Linked DNA regions of Homo sapiens. The protein of the gene in region 1 purifies or fractionates together with the protein of each later gene. This does not show direct contact. Each region holds a gene or a part of one and is shown in the gene's direction. Other genes may lie near its edges. The genes, in order: SETD9 and USO1.

What was found.
Region 2: the proteins of SETD9 (region 1) and USO1 purify together in Homo sapiens (affinity purification with mass spectrometry; 3 studies listed by BioGRID and IntAct, with this or other methods). This does not show direct contact.

What each region holds. Positions count from the first base shown.
Region 1 is NC_000005.10:56,908,137-56,912,439, forward strand, and holds the start of SETD9 (SET domain-containing protein 9), read left to right. Parts: upstream 1-1,459; 5' UTR 1,460-1,509; coding exon 1,510-1,607; intron 1,608-1,920; exon of another isoform or gene 1,921-2,238; coding exon of another isoform or gene 2,239-2,258; intron 2,259-2,289; exon of another isoform or gene 2,290-2,784; coding exon of another isoform or gene 2,785-2,786; intron 2,787-3,032; coding exon 3,033-3,400; exon of another isoform or gene 3,401-4,088; coding exon of another isoform or gene 4,089-4,122; intron 4,123-4,303.
Region 2 is NC_000004.12:75,811,469-75,814,997, forward strand, and holds the end of USO1 (general vesicular transport factor p115), read left to right. Parts: intron 1-691; coding exon 692-907; intron 908-1,737; coding exon 1,738-1,827; 3' UTR 1,828-2,818; downstream 2,819-3,529. UniProt on the Homo sapiens protein: General vesicular transport factor required for intercisternal transport in the Golgi stack; it is required for transcytotic fusion and/or subsequent binding of the vesicles to the target membrane.

The sequences.
Region 1 (4,303 bases):
TCCCTGCAACCTCCGTCTCTCAGGTTCAAGCGATTCTTCTGCCTCAGCCTCCTGAGTAGCTGGGACTACAGGCACGTGCCACCAACGCTCGGCTAATTTTTGTATTTGTTCTTTTTTAGTAAAGACGGGGTTTCGCCATGTTGGCCAGATTGGTCCCGAACTCCTGACCTCAGGGGATCCACCCGCCTCGGCCTCCCAAAGTGCTGGGATTACAGGCGTGAGCCACTGCGCCCGGCCTTGGCTGAGTTTTTATTAGATCTGAGCCGTTCAATTTCAATAGTTTAGGATCCAACCTCACTCTCAGGCAAAGAATAGAGGAAATGATACCAACGTATTTATCTGTCAATAAACACTTGGTGATTTGAATATGGTTAAGGGATTCCTGTAGTTTGCCCCCCTTAAAACTGAACTTTGTCCAAACCTGTTCTAAATATGTGTGTGCGTGTGCATGCATCTGGGTGTTGGGGAGGAGCGGTCGTAAAGTTCCTTTTAAATTTCACCTATGGGGGACTACTTCCCACCTCATCCTATGAAGTCAACATTAGCCTAAATACCAAAGCCAGATTAAGACACTACAAGAAAACTACGAAACAATATCTCTCACGAACACAGATGCAGAACTTCTAGACAAAACGTTTCCAAATTGAAGCGAAGACCATATTAAAAGGACAAAAGCACCTCAGTGGTTGCTTGGGGACTGGGGGAGGGGCTGGATTACTATCTTGGCTGTGGTGTCGAAAACCTATCAAATTGTTCACTTTAAATATGTGCAGTTTATTGTATCCCAACCATTCCTCAACAAAGCTGTTTTTCAGAAACATTTGTCCATGTAGTTTTGCCTTTGAATGGTTGGGTCAATGAAGAGAAAAACGAGTGAAAACAGGGAATCATGACACTTTGTTTTTTTACGTGTAAATATTCGCAAAACGCCCAAACTGGTAACTTTGGGAACACGGGTTCACGCAGAAGAAGGGCTGCTGTCTGGGGAGGACTGAAACTCGGGTTCCCGAAGTCGGGCTGCTCTGGGGCCACGGAGAGAAGGGGAGAGAACGTCGAGGAAGAGGCAGAGCTCAAGTGGACGGAGGATGGAACACAGAGCGCGGCCGGGACAAAGGGGCAGGCCAGACAGCCGTGACAGAGAAACTAGGCGGTCCGCTCCTGGGACGCGGTCTCGGGGGCGGGTTCGCCCCTGAGGCCCGGTGACCCTTCGCCCGCAACCAGGGCTAGCGCTTGTGTGCGCCCACGGAAGCACCCGAGCGACCGGAGAAAGAAAAAGTGGTCAAGGGGACCTCCTTCCAGCTCTACGCGCCTCTCATTCAGAGAGGTGAGGTCAGGAAAGGGGAAGGACGAAGCCCCAGAGCAACAGAAGTCAGGCGGTGCCAGGAACACTGAGAGCGGAGCCAGGGGAAGGCGGCCGAGCGCGGCCCCCTCTCCTCCCGGGCCGGGGCGGGCCCGAGGCCTCGATCCGCCTTCCCCGCGCCGTCCTGGTCACGGCCCCGCGGGGCAGCCATGCCTGGCCGTCTGCTGCGGGGCCTGTGGCAGCGATGGCGCCGTTACAAGTACCGCTTCGTTCCCTGGATCGCACTGAACCTAAGCCACAACCCGAGGTGAGAGGGCGGGACGGCAGAACGAGGGGCACCTGCCTTCGGTTCCCAGACGCCACCACGGCGGCGGGACGCAAAGCGGAGAGCCTGAGGCTGACTGCCGGCCTGAGATGGGCGGGCCCGGGTGGGCAGGGACTGAGGTGGGCGGGCCGGGTGGGCGGGGACTGAGGCCTCGGAGGGGTTTAAGGAACGCGGGCCAGAGGCGGGCGGGGCCGAGGTTGGTGGAGTCCGAGGCCCGCTGGAAGCCTGAAGTGGGCGGTGGCTTCAGGTGGGCGGGGCCTATGGCCTCTTTCCCAGTGTCCGCTGCGCTGCCGGGCCCGCGAGGCCGAGCTCGCCAGCCGGATGTGTCGCCTGTTCTTCCCTGTTGCGTTCGGCACTGACTGGGGAGCTTGTATCTGGGCAAAAATGGAAACTTTTTAAAAAGACTGCCCTTACCGCGTGAGAGTGCGTGGCTTTTTCTCCACCAGGGGTTAATTAGGTGCTTGAACTTCCTCAGAAAAGCCAAGCCAGGGTTTATTTTCATAGTTCATACAAGTACTTCACGTGGTTAAAGAAGCCCATCCCGGCTGTGAGAATAGCGTGCAGTAGCTCGCGCGTTAAGAACGGGCAGAACGCCACTCAAAAGCACGTCGGGATGGTGGGTTTCGGATTGGGGTGAGTCCCGCCGGCGTTATTAAGGGCGCACCAGTGATCAGCTCAACACCGTGCTCACCAAAGAGGCCGACCGGGCCTCCCTGAAGTCAGTGTCCGACAAATAGGGAAACAAAGCGGTTTCCGGAAGGTTGCATGCTAGGGAAACAGGAGATCAGTTGTATCATGACTCGGAACCGTGAGGCGGGAATTACAACCTTTTTGTTCAAGTAAAAATAATGCAGTTAGTACAAAAAGATAATGATTATGGAAATAAGAGGTGCAGTCATTGAAGACGTTAGTCGTCCTGGAGGGAGTGTCACAAAGTATACGATGTTGAATTTGTCTTTGAAACTACAAGGCCATTTTTAAAAAGCCATTGAATGTGAGGTCATTCATTCTCATTGTGATGACATTCAGCTTGGCTGTTGGGTGTAGTACGGGAAAGAGCTGAACTTCGTTTCTGCCTCTGGCTCTCCCACTTACTGGCTTTGGGACCTTGAACAAGTTCCCTAACAATTTTGCTTTCCTTGTCTGCAAAAATGGAATAATGTAAGGACCCCACAGCATGTGGTATAGAATGGGCCTTTCATAAGTACTGACTACTTGGGTGGGAAGTGTTGGGAGTTAGCTAACTAGAACTCCCTCAAACAATTCTTTTCTGAACTTAGTTTCCAGCCCTCCACACACATGAGAATAAGCTTATAGTTCCTTAAGGCCAGGAACCCAGAAGTTATGCAGGTAAGTTTGGCTTTTATCAGTTGAAGGGTAGTGAATAGAAACTTTTCCCATTTTCAGGACCCTCCGATATGTTCCAGAGGAATCCAAAGACAAAGTTATCTCAGATGAAGATGTCCTAGGAACATTACTGAAAGTTTTCCAGGCTCTATTCTTAAATGATTTCAATAAACAATCAGAAATCTTGTCTATGCTTCCAGAATCTGTTAAATCAAAATATCAAGACCTACTGGCAGTTGAACATCAAGGGGTGAAACTGCTTGAAAACAGACATCAACAGCAAAGTACCTTTAAACCAGAAGAAATTCTTTACAAGACTTTGGGTTTCAGTGTTGCCCAAGCAACTAGCTCATTGATTTCTGCTGGAAAAGGTGTCTTCGTTACTAAAGGATTGGTACCAAAAGGCGCAGTCGTATCTATGTATCCTGGTAACAGCACGATTAATATTATACTTTGCCAAGCTTCTTACGTATTGATAAACATAAGTTCAGTAACATACCCAGCCTTGCAATCCTTAGAGTAAGGGATTAAATTGGAAACTCGAGTTTCCATAGATTTTTGCAATTCTAATTCGGAAATTAACTGTTTGTAAATTGTTTTGTGTTAGAAAGTATCCTGGAGTATTTGTTGGGATAAATGCACTTTTTCTTTCAAGGAAAGCTTTCCTGTCAACGTTTAAATTTAGAACATAGTATGACCCACTTTGACAAATTACTTAAAAAGCACTAGAGAAACATGTCAGTTTGGTTTAATTGATAGCTAAGGATAAAAATGGTATGGATAGGCTCACGCCGGTAATCCCAGCACTTTGGGAGGCCGAGGCGGGCAGATCGCGAGGGGTTTGAGACCAGTCTGGCCAACATAGTGAAACCCTGTCTCTACTGAAAATACAAGAAATTAGCCAGGTGTGGTGGTGTGCACCTGTAATCCCAGCTATTCAGGAGGTTGAGGCAGGAGAATGGCGTGAACCCGGGAGGCGGAGGTTGCAGTGAGCCGAGATTGTGCCATTGCGCTCCAGCCTGGGTGACAGTGCTAGGCTCCATCTCAAAAAAAAGAAAAAAAAAAAGCGTACGGATCAAAACATAAAAGACAACATTTAAACCCATAAGTCACCGAATGAAGACCTTCCTGCCCTTTCTACACTTGGAAAGTAAGGCAATTTCTTGGCACAAGATCATTAACTAGAATGCTAAATAGACTACGTTATGTGTTAAACTAACATTATATTATTTGGTATAGTGGAAAGTGTGTGTGTGAATATTTGAGTCAGATAGACCCAGGTTTTTAAAAATTCATTCTCCTGTTTTCTAATTTTACATCCCCAAACAAGG
Region 2 (3,529 bases), on another chromosome or scaffold:
TTTAAGATCAACATCTAATCACAATAACAAAACAAGGAGTACAAATTTAGCTAATACACAAGCCACATGTAGGCTTTCCATAAGCCGTGGAACATAGGCACATTAAATCCTGTCAGCATATTATTGTGTGACAGAGACATCAGAATAAATAGCATGAAGAAAGGAATGAGGTCACATTAAGGAAAATAAGGAAAATAATGTATAATTGTGCTTTTTGGATTGTGGCCAAATTATTTTATTTTTAAACCATAGATTTTTATTTGAAGCTATTTTCATTTAATTGTATGCTTGAAGTTGGGATAAAAAATTTTTTTTTAACTTGAGCTTTGAGTTCTAAAATTCTGGTACTAATCAGACTTCTTCTGTAAAATGCTTTGTGTTTCTGTTTACTCCTTTGATTATCTGAAATGGTACTGTTTTTTTTAAGTCTCTTAAAGGTTTTTTCAGGGATAGCTAACTAAAACTATTTTTTGGATGTTAAACTATTTTTTGGCAATAACCATTTTTGATGAACAGTCTAATAAATTCATGTTAGTGTGTGTGTTAAACCTCCTGTACCCTTAACCTCCACCCCTAAATTCCTTAGGTTGAACAAGTACAGTGATTTGTCATAGAAAGAAACTATTTGTTAAAAACTCTAGGAAAGTGAGTGCTAATTTTAGATTCCTGCCTTTCACCTTTCTTTTCCTAGAATGAAATTAAAGCTCTGTCTGAGGAAAGAACTGCCATTAAAGAGCAGCTGGATTCATCTAATAGTACCATTGCCATTTTACAAACTGAGAAAGACAAACTAGAGTTGGAAATTACAGATTCTAAAAAAGAACAAGATGATCTCTTGGTGCTCTTGGCCGATCAAGATCAGAAAATACTGTCATTGAAGAATAAACTCAAGGATCTTGGTCATCCAGTAAGATTAAAATGTCTCCAAAAATGATTTGTATTATGTTTTAGTATAATGCATTTAAAAGATTTTTAATGTAACATGGAAAAGTTGTGCCTGTATTATAGGAATGGATATGTGGGTTCATGAATATGGTACCATCTATACTGTTTTCACTGTTTTCATTGAATTTACTTAATACACAGATTAGGTTCAGTTTTCAGTACTTACAGACTATTTTCTTTTGGACCGTAAGCCTAGAAAGTGAATTGATTTGATTGGTAACAAGACTGTAGTCACCCAAGCATGTCATTATCTTTTGCCATGTTTGTTTCAGATTTGTGTGTAAAGAGGTGTAGCCATTTATCAGCAAAGTTAACTGATATATCTCATTCATATTAGAAATGACAGAGAGCCTTGGCATCAAATCAAAGAAATCAGATGGCTTATATTCTACTGTAGTTACTAGAATACAAAATTTGTCTGGGCACAGTGCTCACACCTGTAATCCTAGCACTTTGGGGGGCTGAGGTGGGCAGATTACCTGAGGTCAGGGGTTCGAGACCAGCCTGGCCAACATGGTGAAACCCCATCTCTACTAAAAATACAAAAATTAGCAGGGCGCTTGGTGGCAGGCACCTGTAATCCCAGCTACTCGGGAGGCTGAGACAGGATAATCGCTTGAACCTGGCAGGCAGAGGTTGCAGTGAGCCGAGATCGCACCATTGCACTCCAGCCTGGGTAACGAGCAAAACTCCATCTCAGAAAAAAAAAAAATTATCAGTAGTATATATTGTTAAATGTTGAATGTGACATGAACAGATTTTCACAATATTAAATACGTCTTTTTCCTCTAGGTTGAAGAAGAGGATGAACTTGAATCTGGAGACCAAGAGGATGAGGATGATGAAAGTGAAGATCCTGGCAAGGATCTAGATCATATCTAGTTTTCAAATCTCTAGGAACAATAGAGATTATATCATAACTCTGAAGATGGACTCTAAACTTTGGTTTACCTCCATGGAAAATAAAGATTTAGAAACCAGGTGGAAAACATTCACTATTAAGACTATTGATATATTTTTGTAATGTTGCCACCCATGTTGAAAACCTTAAAACTGAATTTATGTAGAACACACATCTTTTATTTAAATCCATCTGAACTGTCCCAAAATGTAATTTGCAAAGAGCTTCAAACACCAAAAATATACCATTTTAAGGCATGTGGTGACAATGCTATTTGCCTTAGTTCATTCGTTGTTTACTTTGCAAAATTTGTGACTTTTAAGTACTAACACATTTGATTGAATGTGTATTGAATTGGAATTATTATTTCTAAATTCAGCATTTGAGTCCTTAGTTGATGATTTTCTTTTAAAGAAATTAGTTTATTTAAAAGCAAGATAGCCTGGGTTGGGAGTTAGTGCATATCATCAGCCCTCCATCTAATGTGATTGCTAAGATGTGCAGGATAGGACAGCTTAGAATGAGTGCCTTGACACCTACATATGGCTGCATTCCATACCTCAGTGAAGAAGCCGAAGGATGCTGACACACAGTGATGTGGAGGGCATTCCGGAGAAACTTTTGCAACAGTGTATTAATGTGATTGGTTTTCTTTTTGTTTTAAGCTAAACATCTAAAACAAATTTCAAGTTAACAGTTCATACAACTCAGATTTAGTAGTATTGTTTATCATAAAACATATTATGTTCCTAGTTTTAAAAAGACCCAAAGTATGATTAATATAATTTATTGGCATTTTTGCTGAATAGGTTTAAGTCAGATAATAGATTTTAAAAAAGCAAATGAGGCAATGTGTCAAAATTTAATGTTTCATAATAAAAATAGATACGTTGACTTAATCCTTGGTCATGGTTCCCTTTGTTTACATCTTAAAAGTATTTTATTCTTAATAAAAGATGAGGCAAGTGAAAATGATGAGGCGACTTTTCTTATTAGGGGTACACAACTATAACTGAATGTTAAAAACAATCTTCTTTAAAACCAATGATTATGATTCCCTAAGATTGGAGGGGGTTAGAAGTACAGAAGTAGAAGAGGTTGGAAAAGGGTTTGGACGTTTTTAAATTCAGCACTGGAGTTCTTGGCAATGATTTCCTGTTGAAGAAGTGGGTTTACTTAAAGACAAGATAGCCTGGGCTAGAAAATAACGTATTTATCTGCCTTCTGGGGTCAGGAATAGGACACAACTTTTGAAAGAGAAGGAAGGTCACTGTCTTGATGAAGGAGACAGCTGTGTGTTACAGAGCACTCGTGAATGCTGCACTGTGCCCATGTTCCACCACTACTGCCATCCTAAGGTGGCACTTGCCATCAGAGAAAGAACTATATTACTGTCACCAGACCAGCTCAGATAGGTGAGGTCTTCCTAAAGTTGACAACCACATAATGAACCATGAGTTAATGACTACCTTTCAGGCTAACGTACGGTTAAAGAAAAATGGATCAGGAGTGAGAATTTGTAAATACAGAACACCAAAGATCTTCATTAAGAAACATCAGCAGAATCAGTGCTGCTGTGCTGAACTCAGTCACTCAGGATGGCTTGTAGTAGAGAAGACAGGAGGCCTCATAGCTGCACAGTTCAGCCCAGAGCCAAAGGGACATCTTCCCAACCCCAGCTGT